Regions from separate parts of the Homo sapiens genome. Here region 2 is linked to region 1. The links come from fine-mapping of genetic effects on gene expression. A gene starts in region 1. The other region holds a variant in brackets. All regions are shown on one strand. Distances are between the middles of the regions. Region 1 holds the start of WIPI2 (WD repeat domain, phosphoinositide interacting 2). Region 2 overlaps WIPI2 (WD repeat domain, phosphoinositide interacting 2).

Evidence for each region. PIP is the estimated chance that this variant, and not a neighbour inherited with it, causes the effect. A credible set is the group of variants that fine-mapping cannot tell apart.
Region 2: its variant is the best candidate, but not a certain one, in a credible set for the expression of WIPI2 in whole blood (INTERVAL, PIP 0.72).

The regions. Positions count from the first base shown.
Region 1 is chr7:5,178,443-5,193,755 of GRCh38, reverse strand. WIPI2 (WD repeat domain, phosphoinositide interacting 2) reads right to left here and starts at 3,523. Exons shown (of 13, transcript NM_015610.4): 1 at 3,263-3,523; 2 at 585-638. The coding sequence starts at 3,336. It also overlaps the pseudogene RNU6-215P. RefSeq lists silencers at 3,029-3,078, 3,089-3,738, 6,412-6,541, 10,551-10,751.
Region 2 is chr7:5,208,019-5,216,018 of GRCh38, reverse strand. It overlaps WIPI2 (WD repeat domain, phosphoinositide interacting 2), which reads right to left. Exons shown (of 13, transcript NM_015610.4): 4 at 1,315-1,484. Among named protein-coding and RNA genes, the nearest start is that of WIPI2, 22 kb to the right of the region's middle. The variant G/A (reference allele first, on the strand shown) is at 3,579.

The DNA.
Region 1 (15,313 bases):
AACTAAAAAAAAAATTAGCCAGGTGTGGGGCCTACGCCTGTAGTCCCGGTTTCTCGGGAGGCTGAGGCAGGAGGACCGCTTGAGCCCAGGAACTCAAAGTTGCAGTAAGCTATGATCATTATAACTATGCCACTGCACTTCAAACTGTGCAACAGTGAGACTCCATCTCAAAAACAAAAACCCAAACCCTTGATTTACAGATGAACAAAGAGAGGAGAGCAGTACCTTCCCAGCACAATAAGCATAACCTAGAAGAGACATGGTGGAAGAAAACAACAGGTTTCTCCTGTTGTCTCCACACACTTCATAACATCAATTCTACAAACACAAGACTTGGAAAGTCAAGTCCCTTTCTTCATTCCATCCCTTTTAGACATGGCATTTAAAACAGACATTGCTACATCACTAACTTCCCACAAGCTGTGGTATCCACTGGAAAAATGTAGTCCTTGATATTTCCATTTCAGATTCAAGTGATCCTCTCCCACTTATTAACTGGTTCACTGCAATTTCAAAAAGCCAAAAAAGTCCTCTAACATAAGCCTTCCAAGGTGATACTTTCAGAAACCAGGGTTGGAACTAACCAGACAACAGCGCGACGGCCAAGACCAGCTGCTCTTGATGCCCCTTTCACTTCTCTAGGTAAAAAAACAAAACAAAACAAAAAACAAATGGTAAAAAACAAATAAAACTTATGCACACTTTTAGGATAGGAATCATGAAAAAGTACGACATTGGAAATCATATTACCAGTAAAGAAAGGCAGGACAGTTATAGTTTGGTATGTAACAAATACAAAAAGAATTTAAAAGACAAAAAAAAGGGAAATGACCCTATAACATATATATTCTAGTAAGTGAACTGGCTTCCAAATTTTCTCACTGCATACAGTAAATGTGAGTTCTAGACGGTCATTCTTTCACTTGCTAAAAATTGTGCTCCTCAATAAATTCTGGAGATTAAGAAGGGAGGAAAAGGTATAAGCCATAAAAGCTCTCTCCGGGAACTTCTCTATTTCTTTCAAGTGTAGATTTAAAACAAATTACCGTCATTTTAGCCCAGTCAACTTCTAGTATAATCCTAGCTTACTATTCATTCCAATTTAGGTTTACACTACATCAAGGTCTCTCTGGCAAGTCAAAGTTATGAAATCTCAAAGTAACAGAAATCTCTTGAACTGTAATAACTTCGGGGAGCATGGAGAAGTGGGTAAGTGTGAAAATGTCCAAGTGTGAAAAGGTCCTATTTCAGGCCAGAGTGACACTCTTCTGTGACACAGGGAACATGGCAGTCCAGCTGAAGTAACAGTAAAAGAGAATGCTTTTCTCTATTTGATTTCATTCTGATAGAAATAATTAGTGAAAAACTGAAAGAGTGGCCGACAATGTTTTGGAAACTCTCTAATTTATACAAGGCATAAACCACCCTACTACTACTACCATTTCTTACTGGTCTCAAAATACTGTGGCCTTGGGCTTAAAAACCAAATTAGAATTGGTTTGGGATGTGTCCTTTTCCCTATCTGGATTAACATAGTCTATTCCACTTGAACTGCAACAGGTTGTCCGAATTGTTTGTTGTTCTGGCTTTTGGTCACACAGAACGCTACAGTACTTGGGAGTTTTCATCTTTACACGTTGTTATGCTATTATTTCTAAATTCACTGTCTTCAGAATTCTACTCTGTAAACAGAAAAAAAAACAGCATGGCAGAGCAGAAAGAACATTGGAAGAGAGCTCAGGAGGCGAGATTCCACTCCTGCCCCCGCTCCACTATTAACCAATTCCAAAACCCAGACCAGCTTGGAGCCTTTCGGAAGGATTTCCTCATCTGTAGTTGGATGAGGTGATTTGCCCCTTCCGACTCTCAATACAGTCCCACTGTGCGACTGTCTTCACAGCTTTGGGGAGGTGCTATTGAGTGCCTGCTGTACACCACCCACTGAGTGTTGTCCATTCTACAATTCACTTTTAATTTCCTAAAGAATCTTACCTTCTGCTATGTTAATTCCACTCAGCCAGTAACAACTCAACCAATGACTTAGTAAGATGCCAAATGCCCCACTCCTTCTCTTTCCTCACTTCCTCTTACTCACTTCCAAGATGGCTCTCCTCCCTGCCAACCCCATAACTCACCCTTCTCTCTCCAGAAAGCTCGCTCATCTATTAACCATCCCCACAAGTCCTCCTCCCAGGCAGCATCCAACCCGTATCAGTGGGGACAAACAGCGTTCCGAATGCACGGGCTGGCATTAAGGCCTTCTCTTGCCCTGAGGATGACCCACCCGCTGGAGCTCTGAGACTCCTGGGGCACTGGTCCGTAACGCCTCTCTTGGCTCAGTTTCTCCCTAGCTAGGTCAGATGCCAAGGTTATTGCTAAGTTTGTTACTTGCTGGAGAAGACATCAAAGTTGATGTCCCAAAAAGAACAGGGAGGGCCGCGCACGGTGGCTCACACCTGTAATCCCAGCACTTTGGGAGGCTGAGGTGGGCGGATCACTTGAGGTCAGGAATTTGAGACCAGCCTGACCAACATGGTGAAACCCTGTCTCTACTACAAATACAAAAAAGTTAGCTGGGCACAGTGGCGCGTGCCTGTAGTCTCAGCTACTCGGGAGGCTGAGGCAGGAGAATCGCTTGAACCCAGGAGGCGGAGGTTGCAGTGAGCTGAGATGGCACCACTGCACTCCAGCCTGGGCAACAGAGCAAGACTCTGTCTCAAAACAAAACAAACCCCAAAAAACAAAAACAAACAAAAAAACAGTGAGAAACGAAGAAAAGAAAATCAAGAGAGAGAGAAGGGTCTTAAGACGATGAAAAGACAAGGAGAAGGGCCTGATTCAAAGGAGAGTGAGTGGGAGACGCTGAGCAAGCAGCGGGAAGAGGAGACGAGAGGAGAGGAAGCGACCCACACCCAGCGCTCCACAGGCGGCCAAGACAAGTCAAGCCCCAAAGTTCGGCCCCAACTTTGCGAGAAGTAGTTAAGTCTGAAGCCAGGGGGCCTCCCCGCAAGAGGGTGAAAGCAGCCCCCTCTCCACCACCTCTCCCGCTCCGGGACCGCAGCTCCAGGCCAGCACCCGAGGGTCTCCCTGGAGGGCGCCCCTCCCTGCACGCCCCGGGCCCGCCCCTGGGGACGCCTCTGCGCGCCTTGGCCCGCGGGGAGGCCGAGCCTGCGACGCCGCCGAGCTTGGCAGCGAGGCCCTCCCCCTAGCCCGGGTCCGACCCTGGCCTCACCCCGACTCCGACCCCCGACCCCGGCCTTACGTGTTGTCCTGGTTGAAGTTGGCGAAGAGCAGCTGGCCGGCGCCGGCCTCCCCGCTCTGGCTCGCCAGGTTCATGGCTGGGCGCGCGGCGAGTGGGCCCGGCCGGGGAGGGCGCGCGCGCGAGGGCGGGTCAGGCTGCACTCAGGGTCGGCGCCGGGCCCCGCTCGCCGCCTCGGTCGCCGCCACTCGCCACCCTGGGATCAACCGCCGCCTCATCCCGTCCCCGCTCTTGTTTATGCTCCAGAGCCGGGGCACCCGGTACGCCTGCGCGGCCCCGCCCCCGCGACGCACGGCCTCGAGCGGCGCAGTCGCACTGCGGAGGCCCCGCCCTCTCACCGCCTGCCTGGGCTTGGGTTCCGGTGGATCACGCAGGCGTGGGGACGCGTCGGGGCGCGCTGGGCCTGGCTGAGGGCGAGCGGCGGCCGCTCATGCGCATGGGGCAGAGCTGGCGGGAGTCTGTTTTCTGCGTACCCTCCTCTTAATAACACTCAATGGCCAGGCACGGTGGCCTGTAATCCCAGCATTTTGGGAGGCCAAGGCGGGCGGATCACCTAAGATCAGAAGTTCGAGACCAGCCTGGCCAACATGGTGAAACCCCGTCTCTACTAAAAATACAAGAAAAATTAGCCGGGCTTGGTGGTGTACGCCTGTAATCCCAGCTACTCGGGAGGCTGAGGCAAGATAATCGCTTGAACCCAGGAGGCGGAGATTGCAGTGAGCCGAGATCATGCCACTGCAATCCATCCAGCCTGGGCCATAGAGCGAGACTCTGTCTCAAACAACAACAAAAACAAAAACAAAAACACCCCAATGGGCCCTCCATGTGCCAATCACTGTGCTGAATGCTTCTGCGCATTACCTTATCATTTTATTATTTTGAAAGACAAGGTCTCGCTCTGTTGCCTAGGCTGGAGTGCAGAGGCTCAATCACAGCTCACTGCAGCCTCAAACTCAGGCTCAAGCGATCCTCCCACCTTAGCCTCCCAAGTAGCTGGGACCACAAATGCATGCCACCACACCCTGCTAACTTTTAAGTTTTTTGTAGAGATGGGGTGGGGGCGGGGGGGGTCTTACTCTGTTGCCTAGGCTGGTCTCGCACTCCTGGCCTCAAGTGATGCTCCCACCTCGGCCTCCCAAAGTACTGGGATTACAGATGTGAGCCACTGTGCCCAGCCACATTATCTTATTTGATGCCCATTACAATCCTAAGTAGAGAATAGTATATCTTAATTTTACAGATTTGAAAATCGAGGCTCAGAAATAATTATTAGCCAAGTGCTAGATCTGAGACTGGAAACGTCCTGTTTCTCCAAGGTCCATACTGTCTGGGTTCCTGGGACAGAATCGTCCCTTAAATTTATTCATTCATTCAACAGTATTTAGGACGCACCTCTCATGTGAACTAAATAGGCCTCCTCCTTTCCCTCAGAGAAGTTATAATGGGGAGATATTTAAATATAAATAGAAGGCCAGGTGTGGTGGCTCTTACCTGTAATCCCAGCACTTTGGGAGGCTGAGGCGGGTGGATCACCTGAGGTCGGGAGTTCCAGACCAGCCTGGCTAACATGGTGAAACCCCGTCTCTACTAAAAGTACAAAAGTTAGCTGGGTATGGTGGTGGGCACCTGTAATCTCAGCTACTAGGGAGGCTGAGGTGGGAGAATTGCTTGAGCCCCACAGGTGGAGGTTGCAGTGAGCCGAGATTGCACCTCTGCACTCCAGCCTGGACGGACGACAGAGTGAGACTCCATCTAAAAAGTAAAATAAAATAGGCTGGGCATGGTGACTCACGCCTGTAACCCCAGCACTTTGGGAGGCTGAGGCAGGTGGATCACCTGAGGTCATGAGTTTGAGACTAGCCTGCCCAACATGGTGAAACCCTGTCTCTAGGAAAAATGTAAAATATTAGCCAGTTGTGGTGGCACGGCCCTGTAATCCCAGCTACTCAGGAGACTGAGATGGGAGAATTGCTTGAACCCAGGAGGTGAAGGCTGCAGTGAGCCGAGATCATGCCACTGCACTCCAGCCTGGGCGACACAGTGAGACTCCATCTCAAAAAATAAAATAAATAAATATAATTAGAAACTCGGGGGTACAATGAGCGAATATATATATATATATATATATATATATATTTTTTTTTTTTTTTTTTTTTTTTTTGAGACGGAATTTCACCTTCTTGACCAGGCTGGAGTGCGATGGCGCAATCTCGGCTCACTGCAACGTCCACCTTCCGGGTTCAAGTGATTCTCCTGCCTCAGCCTCCCGAGTAGCTGGGATTACAGGTGTGCACCATCACGCCCAGTTAATTTTTGTATGTTTAGTGGAGACGGGATTTCTCCATGTTGGTCACGCTGGTCTCGAACTTCCGACCTCAGGTAATCTGCCTGCCTCGGCCTCCCAAAGTGCTGGGATTACAGGCATGAGCCACTGTGCCTGACCATGAATGCATATATAGAAGTCACACAACCTATATTTAAGGGACAGGGACTGTGCTATTGAGAAGGCTCCTGGAAGAGATGAGACCTGAAGTTTGAGTAACTAGTCTAAGGGCATGAAAACACTCTATATGGGAAGGGCTTGAGGATGAGGGTGTGACCTGTCCAAAGAACTCTATGTTCAGAGTGGAAAGGCAGACACAAGGCAAGATTTGGCAGGAGAGACAGGAGGTGGCCAGATCAAGCTGCGTATTGTTACGCAAGGAACTGACCATTATCTGATTATTGTCCATAAGAGCAATGGTCTGCCGTTAAAGACAGGCAGGAAAGTGGAACGATCTAATGAGTGCTTACAGAAGTTAATTCTAATTATAGGGTCAAGAACGCATTGGAAATCATTGAGGAAAGGATGGTCTTTTCAATAAAAGGAATAAGTACCCCTACCTCACACCATATTCAAAAATTAATTTGAGATGGATTACAGTCCTAGATGTGAGAGGTAAAAACAATAGAATTTCTAGAAGGAAACGAGAATGCCTTCATGATTTTGGGATAAACAAAGTAGTCTAAACAGGTACTTTAAAGCGGATGTGTTGGCTCATGCCTGTAATCCCAACACTTTGGGAGGCTGAGGCAGGCGGATTGCTTGAGTCCAGGAGTTTGAAACCAGACTAGGCAACATGGGGAAACCCGGTCTCTACAAAAATACAAAAATTAGCTGGGCGTGGTGGTGTGCGCCTGTGGTCCCAGCTCCTTCAGAGGCTAAGGCGGGAGGATGGCTTGAGCCTGGGAGTTCAAGCCTGCAGTGAGCTATGACCGCGCCACTACACTCCAGCCTGGGTGACAGAGCAAGATCCTGTCTCAAAACAAAACAAGTTCTTTAAAAAGTAGTAACCACAGGCCGGGCGCGGTGGCTCACGCCTGTAATCCAGCATGTTGGGAGGCCAAGACAGGCAGATCACGAGGTCAGGAGATCGAGACCATCCTGGCTGACATGGCGAAACCCCGTCTCTACTAAAAATACAAAAAATTAGCCGGGTGTGGTGGCTGGTGCCTGTGGTCCCAGCTACTCAAGAGGCTGAGGCAGGAGAATGGCGTGAACCCGGGAGGTGGAGGTTGCAGTGAGCTGAGATCGCACCACTGCACTCCAGCCTGGGTGACAGAGCGAGACTCTGTCTCAAAAGAAAAAAAGTAGTAACCACAAAATGAGAGATTGGCCTTCATCAACATTGAGAAGAATGGGCTATTTTCAAGAGACCATTAAGAGAGGAAGAAAAGGCAAGATTTAGAGATACATATATTTATTTTATATATATATATATATATATATATATATATATATATTTTTTTTTTTTTTTTTTTTTTTTTTTTTTTTGAGACGGAGTCTTGCTCTGTCACCAGGCTGGAGTGCAGTGGTGCGATCTCGGCTCACTGCAACCTCTGCTTCTAGGGTTCAAGCGATTCCCCTGCCTCAGCCTCCCAAGTAGCTGGGACTACAGGCGTGTGCCACCACACCAGGCTAATTTTTTGTGTTTTAGTAGAGATGAGGTTTCACTGTGTTGGCCAGGATGATCTCAATCTCCTGATCTCGTGATCTGCCCGCCTTGGCCTCCCAAAGTGCTGGGATTACAGGCATGAGCCACCACGCCCGGCCTGCAATATATATATTTTTGACAAAGGAATTATACCCAGAACTTCTGCGCATCAATAAGAAAAATATAGACAGCTTTTTTTTTTTTAACTGGGCAAAATACTTGAACACAAGCACTTCACAAAAGAGGATATCAGAATGTTAATGAGCACCTGAAAAGGTGGTCATCGTTAATACTCATTAAGAAAATGTAAATTAAGGCTGGGTGTGGTGGCTCACACCTGTAATCCCAGCACTTTGGGAGGCCAAGGTGGGAGGATCACCTGAGGTCAGGAGTTCGAGACCAGCCTGGCCAACACGGTGAAACCCTGTCTCTACTAAAAATACAAAAATGAGCTGGGCCTGGTGGTAGGCACCTATAGTCCTAGCTACTCGGGAGGCTGAGGCAGGAGAATCGCTTTAACCTGGGAGGCAGAGGTTGGAGTGAGCCGGGATCACACCACTGCACTCCAGCCTGGATGACAGAGCAAGACTCCATCTCAAAAAAACCAAACAAACAAACAAAAAAAGAAAATGCAAATTAAGGGCAAATGAGGTATTACTAAGCATCCACCAAATTGGCTAAAATTAAAGCAACTGACAATCCCAAGTGTGGATGACCATAGAGCGCAATTGGAACTCTCATACACTGTGGATGGAGTCTCGCTCTGTTGCCCAGGCTGGAGTGCAGTGGCACGATCTCGGCTCACTGCAAGATGAAAGTCTAAATTGTTTCAACCACTTTGGAAAACTTGGGCACTACCTACTAAAGTTTTGTTTTTGTTTTTTGTTTTTTTGTTTTTTAAATGGAGTTTTGCTCTTGTCGCCCAGGCTGGAGTGCAGTGGCACAATCTTGGCTCACTGTAACCTCAGCCTCCACCTCTTAGGTTCCAGCGATTCTCCTGTCTCAGCCACCCAAGTAGCTGGCATTACAGGCACCCACCACCACGCCCGGCTAATTTTGGTATTTTTAGTAGAGACGGGGTTTCACCTTGTTGGTCAGGCTGGTCTTGAATTCCTGACCTCAGGCCACCACGCACGGTCTATTTACTAAAATTAAACATATATATACCTTTTGACTCGGCCAAATGCACTGTATATGCATTTCTAGGTGCATATACAGTAGAATTAGTGCATATTTTCACTAAAAGACATAAATAAGAATGTTCATAGCTACTGCATTCATAATAAAGTGCTGAGATTACAGGCGTGATTCACCGCACCTGGCTTGGTAATGTACTTTCATACTTTCTTTAATAAGTCTGCCAATCACAGCACTTTGGGAGGCCGAGGAGGGCGGATCATGAGGTCAGGAGATCAAAACCATCTTGGCTAACATGGTGAAACCCCGTCTCTACTAAAAATACAAAAAATTAGCCAGGCGCGGTGGCGGGCGCCTGTGGTCCCAGCTACTTGGGAGGCTGAGGCAGGAGAATCGTTTGAACCCAGGAGGCGGAGGTTGTGGTGAGCCGAGATTGCACCACTGCACTCTAGCCTGGGCTACAGAGCAAGACTCCGTCTCAAAAAAAAAAAAAAAGTCTCTTTCTTTACTTACCACTGTATAGTCATGTCTCACCCGCCATGGTTATTGGTGAATGAAGATACATAAAGAGGTGCCTGAGTGAATCCTCGGGGTTCTAGACATAGTTCTCCTCGATCTCATTCTGAGCAGCAACCCAACTTTCCCTTGCTCATAGCAATCTATGATCCCAGCTGGAACAGAAACTCCTTCTCTCTCTATTGGTTCAGTGAATGAAGATCCCAAAATGACCGCGAAGTAGACTCAGTTTCCAATGGACCAGAACCACAACTCTGTTCCCTGGGATAAAACAGGGAATTCCATGGCCTGGGTGAGGTGGCTCACACCTGTAATCCCAGCACTTTGGGAGGCTGAGGCGGGTGGATCACCTGAGGTCAGTAGTTCGAGACCAGCCTGGCCAACATGGAGAAACCTCATCTCTACTAAAAATACAAAATTATCCGGGCGTGGTGGCACCTGCCTGTAATCCCAGCTACTCGGGAGGCCGAGGCAGGAGAATCACTTCAACCCGGGAGGCGGACGTTGTGGTGAGCCAAGATCACACCATTGCACTCCAGCCTGGGCAACAAGAGCGAAACTCCATCTCAAAAAAAAAAAAAAAAAAAGCGAATTCCTTGTGTGTTAGGATCTCAAACTCCAGTAAGCCCTGAGTTGGGTAGATGAAAACAAAAGTTCCTTAAGTGAGTTATTAGATGTTATATGCAAGGAAAAACTACCACCTCCACTCTTGGTTTGCAGGTGTGTACTGCATATTATTGAACAACAGCCCAGTCTTACAGGATGTGGTCTCTTAGCTGCAGTCATGACTGAGCCTTCCATAGGCTTGCTTCAGTAGCCTTCTGTAGGCCACTCTACCATCCATCTGGGTAATAGGGCACATGGTGAATCCCAAACGCATGAGCCCATTGTCAAAATTCCTTCATCTTAGTGTAAAGCTCTCAGTCAAAAGAGATGTGAATGGCTGGGCGCGGTGGCTCACGCCTGTAATCCCAGCACTTTGGGAGGTCGAGGCAGGTGGATCACTTGAGGTCAGGAGTTCGATACCAGCCTGGACAACATGGTGAAACCCCATCTCTACTAAAAATGCAAAACTTAGCCGGGCATGGTGGAGGGTGCTTGTCATCCCAGCTACTCAGGAGGTTGAGGCAGAAGAATCGCTTGAACCCAGGAGGCAGATTGCAGTGAGCTGAGACTACACCACTGCACTCCAGCTTGGGTGACAGAATGAGACTCTGTCTCAAAAAAAAAAAAAAAAAAGAAAAAAAGAAAGAAAAAAAAAGACTGGGAGGATCAATTTCTATGTTTATTCAAAGAAACCATAAACATCAGTTCCATGGGGACAATTGGGCTGGTTTCACCTCAAGAACTAAACCCTGGTCCTCCTTTTCTGGTGGCCAGGATGGGCTGGAGCTGAGAGCCGCTGCTCACTCATCCAGCTTTTGTTTAATTGCTCTATCATCTGCGTGGTATTGGGAACTGCCAGAAGGGTGTTGTTGGAGAGCAGGCTGGGTTTCTGCCAGGGACGTGACCTGCGTGTGACGCAGGAATGCACCTGCATGTCTTGGCTCACCTGGAGACAGCATCAGCTGACATTCCTGATGGCATGGAGAGCAGGAAGGATGCTCAGGGCCTTCTATCATCACTTTGGGATTCCTCCAGGTGACCGGCCCGATGCCCAGCTCAGAGAGAAGAGACTTTCTGCTTTCAACCTGAGAGCAGAACCCTCATCTGCAGGTGCGTGGAGTCTCCTTATTTGCTAGCTTCGGAGCTGAGCAATCCTCCCACAGATCAGTGCCTAAATAAACTTGTGGGATAAACAGCTGGTGTGGAGGAGGGAACTAAGGACTGGAGTGAAAGGGTACATGAGTGGAGGAAGGGCTGGACATGCAGAACACTCATATCAAACAGGTGTGTTGGGGTTCAAACCCTGGCTTGGTTCTCCGGGGATATATGACTTTACATCAGTCACTTAACCTCGCTGAGCATTAGTTTCTTTAAAAAGAAGGGCTATGGCTGGGCGCGGTGGTTCATGCCTGTAATCCCAGCACTTTGGGAGGCCGAGGTGGGTGGTTCACCTGATGTCAGGAGTTCAAGACCAACATGGTAAAACCCCATCTCTACTAAAAATACAAAAATTGGCCGGGCGTGGTGGCTAATGCCTGTAATCCCAGCTACTCAGGAGGCTGAGGCAGGAGAATAGCTTGAACCCGGGAGGCGGAGGTTGCAGTGAGCTGAGATCACACCACTGCACTCTAGCCTGGGCGACAGAGCGAGACTCCATCTCAAACAAAAACAAAAAAAAAACACAGAAGAGCTTGAATATCTCACAACCTAAGAATGCTATTAAGATAGAGTGGGGAGCCAGGCACGGTGGCTCATGCCTGTAATCGCAGCACTTTGGTAGGCTGCGGTGGTTGGATCACTTGAGGTCAGGTGTTCAAGACAAGCCTGGCCAACATGGCAAAACCCCGTCTCTACTAAAAATACAAAAAGATAGCTGGGCATGGTGGCTTGCACCTATAATCCTATCTACTCGGAAGGCTGAGGCAGGAGAATCGCTTGAACCCGGGAGGCAGAGGTTGCAGTGAGCCGGAGATCGCGCCATTGCATTCCAGCCTGGGCAACAGAGTGAAACTACATCTCAAAAAAAAAAAAAAAAAAAAAAGGCCAGGCCAGACGCGGTGGCTTATGCCTGTAATCCCAGCACTTTGGGAGGCTGAGGCGGGCGGATCATGAGTTCAGGAGATCGAGACCATCCTGGCTAACACGATGAAACCCCGTCTCTAGTAAAAAATACAAAAAATTAGCCGGGCATGGTGGCGGGCACCTGTAGTCCCAACTACTTGGGAGGCTGAGGCAGGAGAATGGTGTGAACCCTGGAGGCGGAGCTTGCAGTGAGTAGAGATCGCGCCACTGCACTCCAGGCTGGGCGACAGAGCGAGACTCCATCTCAAAAAAAAAAAAAAAAAAAAAAAAGAAAGGTACAAAATCTCAGTTAGAAAGAAGGAATGCTTTTTTGAGAGCTATTGCACAGCCTGGTGAATATAACTAACAACACTGTATAGTACATTTCAAAACTGTTAAGAGGTCAGGCGTGGTGGCTCACGCCTGTAATCCCATCACTTTGGAAGGCCAAGGTGGGAGGATCACTTGAGCTCTGGAGTTAGAGACCAGCCTTGGCAATATAGTGGGGCTCCATCTCGGCAAAACAATTTTAAAAATTAGCCAGCCATGGTGGCGCACAGCTGTAGTCCCAGCTACTTGAGAGGCTGAGGTGGGAAAATTTCTTGAGCCTGGGACGTTGAGGCTGCAGTGAGCCGTGATCATGCCACTACACTCCAGCCTAGGTGACAGAGTGAGACCCTGTCTCTAAAACAAAAAAAAAATTGTTAAGAAAATAAATTTTAAATGTTCTCACCACCAAAAAATATAAATATTTGAGGTGATGGATGTATTAATTAGCTTGATTTAATTATTCCACGTTGTATTCATAAGCCATAACATCACGTTGTACACCATAAATACACACATGGTCAATTTACAATAAAATTTTAAAAATGTAAAGAATGGCAATGGAAACAAAAAATATTGAATGGATAAAAGGAAATGCTTCCAGAATAGTGGAGCAAGAATCTCCAAAAACTCACTCCTCCATATAAGCAAAGAGAATGCTGACAAAAATGGTCAAAATCAATTTCTTCAGACCTGGAAATTATCTAAAGGCTTGCAACAATTTGAAGAGTATATGTTCAAGTAAGAGGGCTGAATCTCAGTATAAACACTGATTTTGTGCCATTTTAATTTGCTCTAAAAGCATCCCTCTCTTCCAGATCCATGAAAATAGGCTGGCTTTTAACCATGGTAGCTGTGAAAACAAGCATCTTGCCAGTCACTGGAAGAGGCAGGCTGGGCTTGGAGCTCCCTAAAAGCCCCATCCCCCAAAAACTGTCACTATTTGACTTGTCTGCCAGTTTGCTGAAAAATGCTATTCTCAAAGCTTGTCTTTATTTGATCCAAGAGTTTGCCAGTATCTGTGCAAATAGCCCTATGCCCAAGGCATTTGTCCAAAACAATCAGTGGCAATTGTTTAACATTTCAACTACCTGATGTGGTGTAACCGTGGCAAGGCAAGGGTTAAAAAGAAAAGAAGAACAAGTTTTCCTCTGCTTAGCAGCTCACTTCAAGGACAGTTACAAGATAACACTGTCTGAAAAGTTGAAGCCAAAGGAATGGGCTCCAGACATCCATACCCGGCTAATTTTTTGTATTTTTAGTAGAGATGGGGTTTCACCATGTTAGCCAGGATGGTCTCGATCTCCTGACCTTGTGATCCCCCGCCTCGGCCTCCCAAAGTGCTGGGATTACAGGCGTGAGCCACTGCGCCTGGCTTGATCAAAAATTTTTTAAAGGAATAACTGGGAAAAGAGATGCCAATAAGATACTTTAAAAAACCCCTGCTGTGTTTCTGAGAATCTAGTGGGCTACGTGCATGTACAGGGCTGTGCGCACACCCAGGAAGACCTGAGAAGGTCCTAAACTCTCACCTCTGGCTGACCTTGAGTGTCTGCACAAGAGGAAATGAAGGCTAAGGCAGAGTTGTAAGTTGCTTGCTGGAGTATTGAAAACATGCCTCAACACACACAGAGTTTGTCAGCAAATGCTGGGAAACTTAATGGTCTAAAGCATTTAAAAAGATCACTTTTTAATTTTTTAAATCATTTTTTTAAAAATATGGAATAATTCACGAATTTGTGTGTAATCCTGGCACAAGGGTCAGATAATCTTCTCTGTATCATTTTAATTTTAGTGTATGTGCTGCCAAAGCAAGTAGACGTCTAGGAATATCTCTGTCCAGTTATTAGCTGACCACTGAGATAACTAAGCAAAGTCTTCAGTGGTTGCACAGAACAAAGAACACAGATTTTACAAAGTCCAGAAAAGTCACTAAACAAACACCAGCAGCAACAAGCAACAACAACAGCAAACCCCAGGGAGTGGGGAGAGAGGAATCTGATTTCCAGAAGTGCCATATTGTTTAATTTAATTTTTTTTTCTTTTGTAGAGACAGAGTCTTCCTATGTTGCCCAGGCTGATCTCAAAGTCCTGGGCTCAAGTGATCCTCCTGTCTTAGCCTTTCCAAGTGCTGGGATTACAGGCGTGATCCACTGCACCCGGCCATAAACTATGATGTTTGCCAGGCTAGGTGTATTGAATGCATTTTGACTTATGATATTTTCAACTTAAAATGGGTTTATCAAGACATAATTCTATTGTAAGTTGAGGAATATCTGTATATGCATAATGCAAATCCCAGAAGGATAGGATTGAGAAGAGGGGGAGAAAGAATATTAGAAGAAATAGAGGGTGAAAACTTCCTGAATTCGATTTAAAAAATATTAATCTAAATATTCAAAAAGTTTGATGAACTCCAAGTACGATAAACTAAAAAACGATTAACAGCTAGGCACATGATAGTCAAAGTGTTGAAAGTCAAAGAGAATCGTGAAAGTAGCAAGAAAAGTGTAACTCATCACATACAAGGGACATTCAATAAAATTAACAGTTGAGTTGCTATCAGAAAAAATGGTCACGATCCAGTTTTCCCAGCACCATTTGTTTGCAAAGGCAATTCTTTCCCCCTCAAATTGAAACACTTGTCAAAAACATAAGGGCTTACTTCTGGACTCTTGGTTCTATTCTATTGATCTAATGTCTATCCTTATGCCAGTACCACACTGTCTTGATTACCGTAGCTTTGCAGTAAGTTTTAAAACTGGGAAGTGTGAGACCTCTAACTTGGTACGTCTGTCTTCCAGATTGTTTTAGCTATTCCAGGTTTCTTAATTTTCATAGGAATTTTAGGACCAGCTTGTCAGTTTTTGCAAAACTACAGTCAGAATTTTGATAGGAATTGTGTTGACCCTGTAAGTAATTTTTGAGACAATTGGTATCTTAATATTAAGTCCTGGGCATGGTGGCACATGCCTGTAGTGCCAGGTACTTTGGAGGCTGAAATAGAAGGATGATTTGAGTTCAGATACTCAAGTCCATCCTGGGCAACATAGTAAGAACTTCATCTCTAAAAACAAAAACAAAACCCACAACATTAAGTCTTCTGATCCATGAATATGGGACGTATTCCCATTTATTTAGGTCTGTGATTTCTTTCAACAATGTTTTGTGGTTTTAAATATACAAGTCTTGCAGTTTATTTGTTTATTTATTTGAGATGGAGTCTCTCTCTGTCCCCAGGCTGGAGTGCAGTGATGCAATCTCAGCTCACTGCAACCTCCGCCTCCGGGGTTCAAGCCATTCTCATGCCTCAGCTTCCTGAGTAGCTGGGACTATAGGCTCACGCCACCATTCCCAGTTAATTTTTTTGTGTTTTTAGTAGAGATGGGGTTTCGTCATGTTGCCCAGGCTGTTGTTGAACTCCTGACCTCAA
Region 2 (8,000 bases), 26 kb before region 1:
ATGCTAACCTACAGCTAAGACAAGTGTGCTGTGAATAGATTTGGAAAGATTTGCTTTTTAAAACTGATGCTGAGTGCAGCACAGGTAAAATGAAAATAAGGGGGTTTTAAAAGGTCTAACATTTTATTGTGCACTCAGATTACTTTGCAAGTTCCTGCTCCATTTGGAAGAAAATGAATGTAGACATGCAGACGATGCATCGCTGAGACAACTTATGCAAGAAAGATGACCAGCTCTACATTAGTTGGACGTGAACACAATTTTTAAATGCTCAAGATATGATGTCTTATAATTTCCCATTCTAACCAACTATGTCAGTTAACAGACCACTTCCTAGTTTCAACTGCGTAAGGCAAGAACGTCTCTACTGTGACTTCACCTAGTCACTGTATCTCAGGGTGCAGCTACTGGCTGTCATCATGTCCACTCTACAGCCAGCAGCCTAATCAGCTTTCCCTGCAGGGAGTGCGGGCAGAATCAGATTGCCAGGGGTCTCCCGGGTGGTGCTGTTACCCTGGGCGTGAGCACAAGCTGGGAGACACACACACGTGCGTGAAACACGCACACATGCCACCCACCACGTCCTTCCTCTGTGCCAGACAGTCTTATTAGTTTAGGGGGAGATAAAGTAATAAATCCTTCATCTTGAATTCAAAGTTAAACTAACAATTTACAAAAGGAAAAAAAAGTCTGTAAGTTTTTTTTTTGAGACGAAGTCTCACTCTTGTTGCCCAAGCTGGAGTGCAATGACATGACCTTGGCTCACTGCAACTTCCGACTCCCGGGTTCAAGCGATTTTCCTGCCTCAGCCTCCCGAGTAGCCGGGATTACAGGTGCCTGCCACCATGCCCGGCTAATTTTTGTATTTTTAGTAGAGACGGGGTTTCATCATGTTGGCCAGGCTGATCTCAAATTCCTGACCTCAGGCAATCTGCCCGCCTCGGCCTCCCAAAGTGTGGGGATTACAGGCGTGAGCCACTGTGCTCGGCCAAATATATTTTTTTTAAGTAACATTTATAAAAGCAAAACCAGGTAATAGGTGAAAGAGACTGCCATCCACCCTCTGGGTGGGGCCGGGGACGCCTGTATGGGAGCAGTGTGGCAGAGGCCCGGGCATTTGTCGTGAATGGAATGGGCTGAGCAAAGCTGGTGGGTGAGGAAACAGAGCTGGTCTCTGTAGGCAAGGATCTGTGCCCGGCAACGTGGGGCCAGGCAGCAAGGGAATGACGGAGGGGCATGCCGGTGGGGTGGGCTTGTCCCAGAGTGCTGGAGGGAGCAACAGACAAGCCCACACCCAGCTGGGGCAGCGCTCACCTGCCTGTTGAGCTTCACAGCCAGAATCGTGTTGGAGTAGCTGTAGTTGCAGATCTCAGTTCCCTTCTTAAAGTGGCAAACCTTTAGCTTCCTTGGTGCTTTAAGGCTGACGATGGCCACTAGGCTGCTGGAGAACAATCTCTCTACAATGCACACATCTTCCGTATCGGCTGAAATCACAAAGGGAAGTACATGCGTGAACATCTCCACATGGCTATGGCCACAGGCAGAATCTGCGCTCAAAAACAAACACCTGCCTGGGCGACACGCAGGGCACAGCGCTGAGGGTGCCTGCGGAACATGTGGTCATGGGGTGGGGACAGCCCGGGGGTCTGAGGGTCTTGATTCGCTGGAGCCTCAGGAGCATTTCCACTCTAAGGATGGCCCCTCACGAGCATTCACACGAAAGACAAAGGTTCCTTTCAGTCAGTTCTGTTGCTGGATTTGAATGGTGAGTTTAGGAACCAAACTCCTAGGTAAAGTGAAAGAGTAAGGTCTAGGGGCTCCCTTAATTAAGACACAAACTACTACGAAACTGCAATTGCTTCCCCTGGGTTCCATAGACTCATGTGCTGAGCGCTAGCCTACGTGCTCGCATACTGAGGCTGGCCAAAGAATCACACATGTCCAAAGTGGCATGACACATATTTATTAAAAAGATGTCGCTATTACACTCATGTCACAAAACGCTGACATACGTTCTAAGAAATGCCCTGAAGGGGCCGGGCGCGGTGGCTCACGCCTGTAATCCCAGCACTTTGGGAGGCCGAGGTGGGTGGATCACAAGGTCGGGAGATTAAGACCATCCTGGCTAACATGGTGAAACCCCATCTCTACTAAAAATACAAAAAATCAGCCAGGCGTGGTGGCGGGCGCCTGTAGTCCCAGCTACTCAGGAGCCTGAGGCAGGAGAACGGTGTGAACCCGGGGGACGGAGCTTGAAGTGAGCCAAAATCGCGCCACTGCACTCCAGCCTGGGCCACAGAGCGAGACTCCATCTCAAAAACAACAACAACAACAACAACAACAACAACAACAAAACAAAGAAAAGCCCCGTAGGCAATTGTGTCGTGCAAACACAAATCTAGATGGTAGGCCTACTATGCCCCTAGGCTGTATGCTGTGGCCTGTGGCTCCTGGCTACAGACCTGCGCTGCGTGTGACTAACTGGATACTGTGGCCAGCTGCAGCACAGTGACAAGTACTTGTGTGTGTGAATGAAACATGGGAAAGCTGCAGCAAAAACACGGCCTGCTCCTCTCACAGGACCACCCTCGCACCCGCGGCCCCTCGCTGACCTACGCGCCATCCTGCAGTGCGACACCACTTCAAATGGAACGGGCCATAAACACAAGTACATCATCCTAAGCTCTTCACAGCATCCATTCAGTGTCTTTTCAGTTGCTTTTACCAGAAAGCTGTCATAAACCTTCTTTCTGACAACAGCAAGCGACCTTCATTCAAAAGGAACAGATGCAAGCGTCTGCCACAAATGGGGAGATGGTGGCAGGGTCGGGGGGCCAGGGAGGACAGGCTCTGTCTGCAGCTTCTCTGCTCAGCAGCATCTCAGACTAGCGGCCACCGTCTTCCAGGATCTGTCAACGAAAGGCACGATCAGGAGGGATCATGCCAGTGCGTGGACACAGGAATCTTTGTCAGCGGATACACCTCTAGCACCTGGCATGCAGCACCACTCAGACACGAGGCCAACCCAACTCAGAAGAGATGGTGCATAACCCAGAATGTCAATTATTTGCAGTAAAAATAATTTCTCTAAAGATCAGACCCTGGTTCTCTGACCAGTCCCCTCTTTCCCTCAGGAGATTGACATGGATACTAAGTCACGGCAGCCCTGCTTGCTAGGCGGTGGGCGAGAAAGAGGGCTGGGGCCAGATGCGGTGCTTCGCACCTGTAATCCCCGCACTTTGGGAGGCCAAGGTGGGAGGATTGCTTGAGGGCAGGAATTCGAGACCAGCCTGGGCAACATAGTGAGGTCCTATCTCTACAAAAAATACAAAAATTAGCTGGGCGTGGTGGTGCATGCCTGTGTAGCTGAGGTAGGAAGAGTGCCTGATCCCAGGAGGTTGAGGCTGCAATGAGCGGTGATCACGTTCCTGCATGCCAGCCTGGGCAAAAGAGCGAGACCCTGTCTGTAATACCAGTCCTGCCCCAAAAAGGAGGGTAGGACTGAATGATGATCATGGCTGGTGTCCTGAGGCTGCCACCCTCACTTCTCAAATCCGGCAGCCAGATGTGCAAATCCA[G/A]GGGCACAAGGCCCTTCCCCGGCCACTGTCTAGCCTCTCACTCTCCAGGCACCCCATTCTCAGGTAGTACTTGGTAGTATTAGGGGCTGCACGCACTGGCCCGGTTGCATCCTGTACCTGTTGCCTCTAGTAGTCACCGCGCTTACCACTGAGAATCTAGGCAATGGCTGAGAGACAGAGTTCCCTGCTGGACTGATGGTCTGAGGACAGGTGCCGTGTTTGGCCCATTCACGGCTGCACCACCCCCAGGTCTAATGTCGCCTGTCATAGACGAGGAGCTCCTTCCACACTGGCTGAACGGATGGAATGGACCTTATGACCAGATTTTGGATATTCCCCAAACTCCCCAAATGGTGTTGTTTTAAAAACATCAAAACAACAACAACAGCAACAAAAAACAAAACTCAATCTCTGTGCCATTCAGTTTCAGTGGGTGGTGAAATGCTGTTAACCCCAGTGCTACATCCAAGAGGCAGAAGTGCTCTTGGTGAAGCTCAGCGGCACGCGTCCTAACACATGTACTGGGCGTGTGTGCGGCACTGCAACCTTGGTGAGTACTGGGTGCCACGGCGACCCTGCAGGAAGGCGAGTTTAACAATCACATTCCAGTCTCAGCTCTGCTCTAATTAGCTGTAAGGCCTGATATCTACTTCCTGAATGGTGAAAGAAGAGTTGGACTCTCAGCTTCATTAACTTCAGGGTTGGGACACATAGGAAAACCTGGTATACACAAAACTGGTTTTTTATTAAGTACAATTTTATTTAAATCCACTGGCCTCTCCACTGGCCTCCTAAATCCAATCAGTGGTGAAAAGAACTTACTTCCAAATAGGGCTGCTCCTCAACATGCACAGGCTCAGTATCTGTGAACTCACCTGCTAGGTAAGGTTTCTTTGTGACCCCGCATAAACACTCACGGTGTTTTACAGCCGTCCGTAGACACATGCGAAGTGGGATTTTATTTTTTTGAGACAGAGTTTTGCTTTTGTTGCCCAGGCTGGAGTGCAATGGCGTGATCTCGACTCACTGCAACCTCTGCCTTCCGGGTTCAAGCAATTCTCCTGCCTCAGCCTCCTGAGTAGCTGGGACTACAGTTGCATGCCACCACGCCTGCCTAATTTTTGTATTTTTAGTAGAGACAGGGTTTCACCATGTTGGCCAGGCTGGTCTTGAACTCCTGACCTCAGGTGATGCACCCGCCTCAGCCTCCCAAAGTGCTTGGATTACAGGCGTGAGCCACCGCTCCCAGCCTCGGGAAAAGATTTGAGTCACATGATGCACATGTTCCTGGCTGAGGTCACACAGGGCAACGTCCTATCTTCTCGTGTTGATTCTGAAAACAACTGTCCTTTTCCTGGTCTACATAGGGCTACTGAGTGTCTGCTTTTTGCACTTTTGTGCTTGTTGTTGATTTCACTGTTGGCCCTGGCACAGTGCTGAGTGTCGTCGAGTATCCCTAAGCACAAGCAGCCTGGGATGTACCCCGCGGAGAAAGCACATGTGTGGGCTGAGTTCTATGCGAGCCGCGAGTTCAATGTTAGTGAACCAACAATCCCCATTACGTCAGCATGTCTTGAGGCAGGGAAGCACACACAAAACGAGGTTGTCTTTTGATCAGCTGATGAAAATGTTGCGACCAGAGGCCACCTACCAATCCTTCCCCTGGGAGCAACACTTCATGATTCGCTAATCCAGCGTCCCAGAGACTTACAGACTAGAACTGTGAACAACAAGAATCAACTGTATTTTTATTTTTTTTCAAAGAATAGGTTCTTACTGCTTTGCTTGGTAAAACTTGACTTATTTACTTCACCCATTCAACACAAACAGCAGATCCTACACCAGTAGAGACCATCCCAAGTATACAGTGGTAAACAGGGCAGTGCCTGCCATCACGGAGAGGAGGCCAAAGAGATGTGGGCCCAGGGCCCTGTGTGGCACCGAAACTGCCAAAGGTCAGCAAAGGAGATTGAGTAAGAGAAAAGCCAAGACCGTGTATGAGATGGAAGTCAACAGAAGAGGGCATCTGAAGAACAGCAAGCAGGTAACTGTGCCCAGCACTGCAGAGGAGGGAAGAGGAAATGAGACACGTCCCCTGAGTCTGGGAACGAGGAGCTTATATGGCGACCTTGACATATTTTGATGGAGATGTGTAGGAAGAATGGCTGAAACATGAAAGAGAATGAGAAGTGGAAAAAAACTTAGGCAACTATCTATAGGAGTTATGCTACAGGCCAGGCGCAGGGGCTCACGCCTGGAGTCCCATCACTTTGGGAGGCTGAGGCAGGCAGATCACCTGAGGTCAGGCGTTCGAGGCCAGCCTGGCCAACATGATGAAACCCCATCTCTACTAAAAATACAAAAAATGAGCCGGGCATCGCGGTGGGCGCCTGTAATCCCAGCTACTTGGGAGGCTGAGGCAGGAGCATCAGTTGAACCTGAGAGACGGAGGTTGCAGCCAGCCGAGATGGCACCACCAGACTCCAGCATGGGCAGCACAACGAGACTCCACCAAAAAAACCAAAAAAACAAAACAAAAAAAGAAGTTATGTTCTGGAGAAGTAGAAATATGGGAGGGGCTGGGGGATATGCATGGGCAAGGGAAGTTTCTGTCTTCAAATACAGGAGCTACTAGATATACTGAGATGGATTTATGGTTGAGACTGCTTGCCTGGAGGAACAAACCACTTAGGGGGCTGGTCACCTGAAGAAGGAAAGAGAAGGGAGCCCCAGACCGACAGCACCAACCTCTCTTGAAGCAGCAGCAGGTGTTAACTGTGATGGGATGGAGGTGGGAGATTTCAAAGTGAGAACAGTATGAGACGATCATCTCAAAGAGCAAGTCGCCATTAGAGGTGGTGATAAATTCCAATTCAACTGCACAGAGAAAGACTGTGCCAACCCAACAGATGCAGAAAAAGCATGAGAAAATGCAATGCTCATTCATGGTAGAAACCTAAGAAACCTGGAATTAGGAAGAACCTTCTTTCACTGATGAAGGTTAAGAAACAGTTAAGAAAATCTACAGCTGACACTGTACTTAATGGTGAAGATATTTGATCTCTTCCCGTTAAGACTAGAAACAAGGCAAGGATACCCACTCTCCTTACTTTGTGCTCGAGGTCTTACACGTTGCAGTGAGGCAAGAAAAAGAAATAAAAGGCACAAACATTAGAAAGCAAGACATCAAACAGCCTTCACTGCCATCTTAAGGAATCTATGGAGCAACTATTTAATATATGAATTTAGCAAAGTCATAGGATACAAGATTAAAATATAAAAAATTAACTATATGTTTAGGCCAGCAGCAAACTGGAAAACTCAGTGAAATAATTTTCTTTTATGATAATGTCAAAATCCAAAGTATTAGGAATAAATTTTACAAAAGATGTAAGACCTCCATACCAAAAAAAAAAAAAAAAAAAAATCACAGAATATTACCAAAACAAATTTAAAAAGAGCTAAATAAATGAAGAGATATACCATATTCTGGGTACTCAATATTATTAACGTATCAACCCTCAAACTGATCTCTAGGTCCAATCCCATCCTAATCATAATCCCAACAGGCTCTTTTGCAGACAAAGTGGATTTTAAATTTTATATGGAAAGGAAAAGAAACTAGAAAATGCAAAGCTATCCTGAAAAAGAACAAAGTTGAAGACTGACAAATAGATCATTAGAAGAGACTAAAGAGTCCAGAAACAGACTCACAGGTCACAGGACTGTAAAGCACCAAAGCAATCCCAGGAGGGAAGAAAAATCTTCTCAACAAATGATGATGGAATAGGAATCCATTAGGAAAAAAACAACCTTGATTCATACCTCACAACATACATAAAAATTAATGAGATAGATTATTGACTTAAATATAAAAACTTTAGCTTTTATGTATAGTGTTAACTATATAAAGCTTTCACAGAACACATAGGAAAACACCTTCCTGACTACAGGGTAGGCAAAAGTTTCCTGGACAGGGCCTAGAAAGCAAAAACCATAAATGGAAGGAAAAAAAAAAACAACATAAATATGACTGCATCAAAATTTAAACCATTTGCTCAAAGAAAGAAAACAGGCAAGCCACAGACTAGGAGAAATAGTCACAAAACATATCTGACAAAGGACTGGTATCCAGAATATCTAAAGAGCTCTAACAACTCTATAATAAAAAGATAAACAACCAAACCTAAAAAGCAACAAAAGACTGGAACAGACATGTCACAGAGGAAGATATATAAACGGCCAACAAGCACATGAAAATGTTCAACATCATTAGTTACCTGAGAAATTCAAATTAAAACCATGAAGTTATCATTATACACACATCAGAAGGGCTGAAAAGAAAAAAACTAGTAATATCAAAAGTTGGTGAGGAGGCTGGGTGTGGTGGCTCACGCCTGTAATCCCAGCACTTTGGGAGGT